Regions from separate parts of the Homo sapiens genome. Here regions 1 and 2 are each linked to region 3. The links come from fine-mapping of genetic effects on gene expression. A gene starts in region 3. Each other region holds a variant in brackets. All regions are shown on one strand. Distances are from middle to middle.

What was found. PIP is the estimated chance that this variant, and not a neighbour inherited with it, causes the effect.
Region 1: its variant is fine-mapped to the expression of ATP11A in T cells (TOPMed, PIP above 0.99). The same link has a PIP of 0.9 or more in blood mononuclear cells.
Region 2: its variant is fine-mapped to the expression of ATP11A in whole blood (TOPMed, PIP above 0.99).

The regions. Positions count from the first base shown.
Region 1 is chr13:112,868,216-112,871,009 of GRCh38, reverse strand. All of the region lies in intron 25 of ATP11A (ATPase phospholipid transporting 11A), which reads right to left. Among named protein-coding and RNA genes, the nearest start is that of MCF2L-AS1, 99 kb to the left of the region's middle. The variant A/G (reference allele first, on the strand shown) is at 1,576.
Region 2 is chr13:112,873,927-112,876,720 of GRCh38, reverse strand. ATP11A (ATPase phospholipid transporting 11A) reads right to left here. Exons shown (of 30, transcript NM_015205.3): 28 at 780-945. Among named protein-coding and RNA genes, the nearest start is that of MCF2L-AS1, 93 kb to the left of the region's middle. RefSeq lists a silencer at 1,300-1,489. The variant C/G (reference allele first, on the strand shown) is at 1,623.
Region 3 is chr13:112,688,977-112,691,613 of GRCh38, reverse strand. It overlaps ATP11A (ATPase phospholipid transporting 11A), which reads right to left and starts at 1,576. Exons shown (of 30, transcript NM_015205.3): 1 at 1,159-1,576. The coding sequence starts at 1,197. It overlaps LOC102725228 (a long non-coding RNA gene), which reads left to right and starts at 1,799. Exons shown (of 2, transcript NR_187633.1): 1 at 1,799-1,951. RefSeq lists silencers at 784-1,023, 1,044-1,973 and an enhancer at 2,222-2,637.

The sequences.
Region 1 (2,794 bases), 180 kb before region 3:
CAGTGGTGCCCAGGTGGCCGTGGAGGAGGGAAGGTCAGTGGGACCCACGAGCTGCCAGCTGGCAACGCAGCACAGACACAGACACACCCGTGAGGACCGCGTGCCCGACCCGTGAGGACAGCACGCCTCTCTACCGCACGAGGCACAGGCCAGAAAGGGCTGCTGCCCAGACCACCCCCCGCCTTGGGGAAAACCCCCGACTGGAAACTTGTTTCGGGAGAACCTGCTTTCCTTTGGGACGCTCCTGCGCTGTGGCCCAGACGATTTCTAGTTTATCGGATTCCATGAACTGCACCTCGCAGGGAATTTTATTTTATAAAGAATTAAAAAGCGGGCCGGGTGTGGTGGCTCATGCCTGTAATCCCAGCGCTTTGGGAGGCCGAGGTGGGCGGATCATGAGGTCAAGAGTTTGAGACCAGCCTGGCCAACATGGTGAAACCCCGTCTCTACTAAGAATACAAACATTAGCCGGGCGTAGCGGCGCCTGCCTGTAATCTCAGCCACTAGGGAGGCTGAGGCAGGAGAATTGCTTGAGCCCGGGAGGCGGAGGTTGCAGTGAGCAGAGATCACGCCACTACACTCCAACGTGGGCGACAGAGCACAGACTCTGTCTCTTAAAAAGCTGGAATACAAATGGCTGTTCTTCAGAATTCAGTTTCAACCAAAACAACACACCCATCACCATACCCCTTGATTTAGCTGAGGGAGGGTGTGGGCTACAGTCCTCCCACATGGTCAGTGGGATAACAGGATAACATCTCATTTGTAGATTATAGAAAAAAGTGTTAGGACCTTTTGTAGTGAACACCGCTTCTTAGGGGCCCCCATCAACACATCCTTCAGTTTTTCCCTCACTTCCTCATTGTGATCAGAAGTGGGCCTCCTCCTTCTGGCTTGGAAATGCCTGGCCTACAGTGTCACTCAGATCTACACATGCTTGTGGTTCTCGGCTGGGGCAGCCTTGCCCCCAGGGACACCTGGCCGTGGTGGAGACATTTCTGGGGCGTGGGGTCTGCTAGCTTTGGATGGGGGGGTGGAGGGGCTGCTGAGTGCACACGACAGTGGCCCACGAGGATGTACATCTGGCCCCAATGTCAGCAGAGCCCGGGTGAGAAGCCTGTTTCACACTCACCAAAAAGTGCCGTCTCTTTGTGGCTTAACTTCTGGGGCAGGAAAATATCATGCCTCTAGGAACAGCTGTGGCTTGGCAGCAGCCTACAAGCACATGTGGCCAGCAAGGTGCTGGAGGGCGGGAGGCTGCTGTGCTGTAACTGGAAGCTGATGCTTTCAGCCAAGTGGTGCCTCCACAGCAGCTGAGGGCGGCTTTGCACCCAGACAACCACATCAGCTGGGCCTGGAGGAAAAGCCCCTGACGCTGCCCAGCTCTCCTCTTCCTCCCCCAGGCCTCACCTTGGCCATCCCAACACAGAACTCTGAAAGAGTTAGATGGCAGCAAGACATGAACTCAAGGGTGCCCTGTGAAGCAGTGTGTGTCACCAACAGCGCCACAGGTGATAACTGCAGTCAACTCACACGGCCTCCTCACTGTCCCCTCTCCCTGCTGTGAGCCGAGAA[A/G]CTGCCTTTCTAAGCTCCCAGCTGGGGCTCCCTGGGTTTAGGGGGTAATGGCAGAACTGGGATAAGGAGTTAGGCCTCAGGATGCCTGGTCCTGCAGAGCACATGGGCCACAGCTGTAAGCTTTATAGGTGAGGAACAAAGCACAGCTATCGTGAATCCAGAATCAGGCACCTTGGTCAGGGCCCCTGAGAAACGCTGACCCATTACTAACCTGTGTCCACGTCCTTTGGAAGCTAGTCCACTGTGGAGCTATCCTGAAACGCATCTCTGGAAAGCCCTCTTATTCCCTTGGTGGCCTGAAGTGGGGCCCCCAGGTGAACTGCCATGATGTGGTTTGGCTTTGTGTCCTCACCCAAATCTCATCTCAAATTATAATCCCCGTGTGTTGGAGGGAGAGCCTGGTGGGAGGTGACTGAATCATGGACGTCCTCCTTGCAGATCTCGTTGACGGTGGGCGAGTGAGTTCTCATGAGATCTGGTTGTTTCAAAGTGTGTAGCATTTTCCCCTTTGCTCTCTCTCTCCTGCAGCCTTGTAAAGAAGGGCCTTGCTTCCCCTTTGCCTTCCGCCATGATTGTAAGTTTCCTGAGGCCTCCCCAGCGATGCTTCCTATGCAGCCTGCAGAACTGTGGCTCGATTAAACCTCTTTTCTTCCTAAATCACCCTGTCTCAGGTAGCTCTTCAGAGCCATGTGAAAATGGACTAACATGTGCGGATAGTTTATTACTACAATTGCTGGTCGTTATTTCCATCAGATTCTGGGGGTGGCAGGCATCCCTGGGATACCAATCTCCTTTTTCAAAGGGCTTTTCACAGGGACCCTTTTCTTCCAAGTGACATCAACGCCATCCCCAGTGAAGCTCCTGTTTCTGATTTCTGTGGAACCCTGTCCTCATGTGACAGGCACATCTCAGCCAAGAACCTGACCAGTGCGAAAGCCTCACTCCTTCAGCAGATCTGCCTCTGGGGCTGGCCACCCTCCACCACTGCAGGCTAAGCCCCATGCCCCCACTTCCTCCCTCCTTTGAGAATGGGTATTCCTATAGAAGCTTTCTGCTCAAAAAGTCCTCAGACCAGACCCATTTAACTCTGATGTATAAAAACATCCACGGCCAGCATAACTTGCGCCTTCTCAAGGTCACGGTCATGAGTGGCATCCACTGCCTCCCCTCCCTGTGCAGATCCCTCTGCCTCCCACCTGGCCCATACGCGGACCGCTCG
Region 2 (2,794 bases), 190 kb before region 3:
GGGCCCCCACCCCTCATTTCCCCATTGGGCTTCAGCACTGCCCAGTCCAGGGCTCCACCTCAAGGAGTGATTGGAAATTTCGGGGATGAAACTTGAAAACTTGCATTGTTAATAGAGTCCTGAGGGACCGTGACAGGTGCAGCGGCCCTCTGAGGACAGGCAGGCTTCCCAGTAAAGCAGCAGAGGTGGGTCGTGGTCACTGCCTCTGATTTAGGGTTGAGCTTGAAGGCAGAGGCCAGCTGCTGAAAAGGATGGGGGACCGGGAGCTAAGTCCTCACACCTGCCAAACCCTGCACCTGGGGGGACACTCGGCATCGTCACGTCTTCCCTGGACCCAGAATTCTGCTTGTGCCTAAAACTTGGGAGTGTGTAAAATAAGCAGCTCCACCAATACCAGCATTTCCTGATACAGATGCTACCGTTTCCAGCCAGATTTACCATCCTTAAAAATTATGTAATTCAACCTTTTAAAGTAATGATTAATTTTAAAAAAGGTTTCCATTTACATGAAATAATTTGCCTTTTGCATCAGTCTTTTTTCTCTTATTTGTGTCTCATTTCAGATGACTGTTTAGGTTGAAACATAAAATTAGACATCGGTCATCGCAAATGTACCTGATGTTTAACATCATGCACCGTCAGGACACTCATTAGTGATACCTGAACTGATCACGTTTCATGAAATCCAAACCTTTCACACTGTCTTTCAAAACGGTCATCTCCCAATCCTAAGGCCAGGGCCCTGAGGCACCCCCGCCCCGGCTGGGGACACTCCGTACCTGGACTCTCTCTGTTGCTGTTGGCCACAGCTGCCGGCACAGGACTTTCTTGAGGACGTCGGGAAGGAGGCTGATGGTCACCAGCAGCACGATGGCCAGCCAGGCGGGCCCGCTGGACAGCATCTGGATGAACACGTAGTACATCCTCTGGTAGTTGAGGAACGGCCTGAGGGGCAGGGAAGAGAAGCCGCTGGTGAGGCATGTACTCCCTGGGGCTGGCCTCTCTACTCACTGGAGAGGCCGTCTGTTCAGGGAGTTTACACTTTTGTCAGTGAGAGTTGCTTGGCAAGCCACGGAGCCTGCTCTGAATTTATCATATAAAAAATGAACACTGAACCTCCCGGTAATGCTGGGGTAAGAGGAACGGGAGAAGGAATTCTATGAAGTCATCTCAAATGGGACATAGAAGTCTCTGAAGTTCAGTTTCACAGAAGCAAAAAAAAAAAAAACAAAAAACAAAACACAAAGGGATTGAAATAGGGATGTTTTTCTATCTTGAAGTCTCGGATGGGAAGGACGTCCCGAGCACTGGTCGTCAGTACAGAGCAAGCAATGACTTCTCTCCCCAGAAAGAGGATGATTCAAAGACGTCTGCGTCAGCCTCCATGAGGGAGGCTGGCAAGGATGCAGGGACCAGTGACCCGCAGCCAGCCCGAGCCCACAGGTCCACGTCTATACGTGCCTTCCGGTAACGTTTCCTGATCGCCTTTCACATCCCAGGCACTACGGATGGTGGCAGAGACACAGAGATAGGGCCCCAGCTCCAGGAAGCACAGTGAAACTGGTGTGTGGACAACAGGAGGGAAACGGAAGCAGGGCATGGTGGGTAACGGGAGGGACACG[C/G]AGCTGCTGGCAGACCTGGGATGGGGCTGGGGGCACCCACGTGGTGCTGGTGGCGGGCAGGAGGATGGGGTCTCATCACCAAGCGGTGGTGACATGGTGAGCTCCCAGCACATCAAAGACGTGGGGTCAATGTTTTAGGAAACAATGTGAGAGGCTGTGGTTCTACCAAGGCTGACGGGCTGTGGCTCCTTGGCTACAAAGCCCAGGAGCTGGTCAGAGAGGTTTGGGATGGAATCTTCCTCTTACAGAGCCATCGCCTTCAGGGCTGTTAGAATGGCCGGGCTCTCCAGAGCCGGGCTGGGCTCTCTAGAGCTAAGCAGGTTTCTCTGGGGCTGACAGGGTGCCTGACACCCTCCAAGCTGGGCTGTCATCTCTGAGACTGTGTAATGCAACTTGGGGCCACCAGGGGCCGCTGGCTGAACGAGAGAATCCGGAGGGACTCTTCCTGGGCTGAGAGTCCCGCCCAGGTCAGGGGCCCTGAGGGATCCTGAGTGGGTTGCTGGCTTTCCCTAGGCCGGCTACTGACCCCAGGTCTGCAGAGGGCTGTGGCAGAGGCTGCTGCGCTGGGGCTGAGACTGGGACCTGGCCCTGGGCCCATACCACTCAGCGTCGTTTCCTGGCTTACAGCGACAGTCTCTAGACTGACCACCCTGCCTATGTCGCTCTCACCAGCTCAACACGCAGCCACCGTGGGGTTTTTAAAAGAGCCACTCAACTCTGCTGTGCTCTGCCTCGACTGACCACGACAGCCTCGAGCCAGGATCCTCACGGCCGGCGGTCCAGGAGGCCACCATGCCTGCTCTGCAGCCTGGTCCGGGCCCCTCTCCGCTGGCCACGGCTCCCACTCACGGAGGACCTCCTCCCGCCCGGGCCTGCGTGCCTGCTGCTCTCCCCCAAACCAGAGGCTCCCCGATGAGTCAGGCTGCTGCGGGCAAGGTCCAGCCCCACCATGCCTGGGCCCCATCTTGCTGCGGGGCGTGAGGATGGAGTGAGACAGGACCTGTCGAATGCCTGGCCAGTGCCTCGTTGTGGGAGGCGGTTACCAGCTGGGACTTGCTGTGATGATGGCGCTCTTCTTCCAGGTTTCAAATGACTGTTTCTGAAAAGTCACCTCTGGCCTTTCAATCTGACATGGGTCCCCTGGTGCGGAATCCTGGTCTGTTCCTCCGTAT
Region 3 (2,637 bases):
GAACCTGTGATTGACCAGTGACCGCCAGCCTCTATGGAACAATGAAGCCTCTTGTGCAAGACAGTGGCAGGAAACGCTGTGCTTGGGACAGTTTTCTTCCTCTCCTACACACACACACACACACACACACCCTTTTTTTTTTTTTTTTTTGATACAGAGTCTCGCTCTGTCACCCAGGTTGGAGTGCAGTGGCTCGATCTCGGCTCATTGCAACCACCGCCTCCCGGGTTCAAGCGATTCTCCTGCCTCAGCCTCCTGAGTAGCTGGGATCCCAGGCGCCTACCACCACGCCCGGCTAATTTTCGTATTTTTTAGCAGAGACGGGGTTTCACCATGTCGGTCCGGCTGGTCTCAAACTCCTGACCTCGTGATCCGCCCGCCTCGGCCTCCAAAAGTGCTGGGATTACAGGCGTGAGCCACCGCGCCCGGCCACACACCCCTTTTTACACCTAACGCCAGGGATTCCGGTTTCCCCTCCTCTGGTGTAAAACAAAATCAACTTTTCCCCTTCCGAGTCTTCCCTCCTGAGCTCTTCACTTGCTTATCACTGAAGGGGCAAATTCCAGAGGAACCCAAGAAGACCCCGGACTTCTGATCTAATTGGTTACTTTAAGGTAAAAAATAAAAAGATTCCAAACTCCGCTTCTGAATCCCCCAGGGGTGTTAAAGAACAAACACAATTGCTACCTTTTTCTGCAGAAGTGTAACGCTTCCTCCCAATCCCTTAATCTTACAGACACGGCTGCGCGGAAGCCGCATCTGAAGGTTCCTCCCCAGACCCGGGCCCCGGCGGGGTCGAAGTTGGCTCCCTCCGGGCGCCCGGTCCGCCGGGACAGCTCGAACCCCAGCCAGCCTCTCCGAGGGACCCCCAGGGCGCTGCGGGCGGGAAGGGGGCGCCAGGCGGCCGCGGCCAGGGAGCAGGTGGCCGCCCGGGGCTGGGGCCCCGCGCTGTGCCCACCTAGACCCCGTCGGAAGCCCCAGGGTGTCAACTCCGAGGCCCCTCCCCAGCATCCCGCTCGTCCCCGGGGGCGGTCCGAGTCCCAGACATCGGAGACCTCCCGGGACCCCGGGGCTGGACCGGCCACAGGGTCCGGGCTGCGGGGCCGGCCCGCGTCTGTCTGGTCCCCGGGTCCCCCAGCCCGCGCCGGGAGCACTCACGTATCTGTGCACGAGCGTCCGCACGAGGCTGCAGTCCATGGCTCCTCCGGCCGCTCCCGCTCCGCCGTTCAGCGCCCCCGCGCCCGGCTCGGCGCGCCCATGGGCTCCGGGGTACTAGTGCGGCCGCGCCCCCCGCTCCGGTCACGGCCTCGGCGCGCCGGGCGGTGCAGGGGGCGGCCGCGGCCCCTCCGCGCTCATGCCCGGCCCGGCCGGCGAATGCTGGGTCCGCGGCCCCGCGCGTCGGCAGCTGCTCCACTGGCGGCAAGGCTGCTGCTCGGGGCCGCGCGCGCGCGCTCTGGCGCCTTCTCTCTCCCCGTCGGTCCGCCCGCTCGGTTGGGCTCGGCTGGAGCACCCCGGCCGCGGCGGAGCCTGCGCTCTGCTCCTCCCGAGTCTCCTCCTCCCCTGCCCGCCGCCCTCTGGAGCCTCCGGGCCCCGCTGGCTCCTGCCCCTGCTCCGGGCGCGCACGTCACCGGCGCAAGTGAGCATGCGCCCCGCGGCCGCAGCCCCCGCCGGCCCCGCGCCCACACCCGCGCTCGCACCCGCGCGCCGGCCCTGCCCCCTCGCGCCTCCGCCCGGGCCCCAGACCCTGGGGGCAGAGGGCAGAGGGCAGAGGTCAGAGGCCGCGGGGAGGAACCCCCCTGTTGCTTCCGCCTCCCGGGGCGCAGGCGCTGGGCGCGGCGGGGAAGGGACTCGGCACTGGGGAAACCCGGAGTTTCAGCCAGGGTCCCAGGGCTTCCTTCCCGGGTTCCTGCCGGAAAACTTTTCTCCTCCGCCCGGAAGCCTCGATGGGGCAGTGAGATCGCGGGGCGAGGTGGGAGTGTGGGAGGGGGCCGCGGGCAGAGAGCGGGAGTCCGGCTGGGTGGGAGATCTCCTGAGCCGAAGCTGGGTCTCGCCCCAGCGTGGCGCCACCGACCCGCAGGCTTTTCCTGCTCTGCAGATGGAGAGACACAGGGACGCTCCTCAGGTGGCTGCCCTGGGCTGCCAGCCTGTCAGTGGGAGGGGAGGGTGCAGACAAGAGGCCCCTGTTTCCGAAACCCCTCTGTCCCCAAAGCTGCGACAGCAGAAGACACTTAGGCGGCCTGAGGGGTTGGTGAACCACAGAGGAGCTCAGCTTCGCCTGGTCTCCAGCTCCCGGTGGCGGTGGCGTGTCCTTAATGCTGCTGGCTTTGAACTGGACTGAGAACTATTTACCACACAAACACCACCATTTCAATCCCGGAGAATGCCTGTTTTCCCTAGGGTGACCTGGCCGGGGTAACAAACACTTGTTCTCTAATTCCACGGTCAGCCTTGACTTAATTGAGGTACTTGATTTCCAACTTCCTGTCTTGCTGCCACAGATAATCACTGATGAAACCAAACAGGCAACACCTTTTGGTGGCCTGTGGAGAGCGCTGCCCCGTCTGGGTCTTAGGAAGGCAATTGAATATGAATGTTCTCCCGAGTGCTTGTGGAAAAGAGATGGTGTTGGCCACTTTT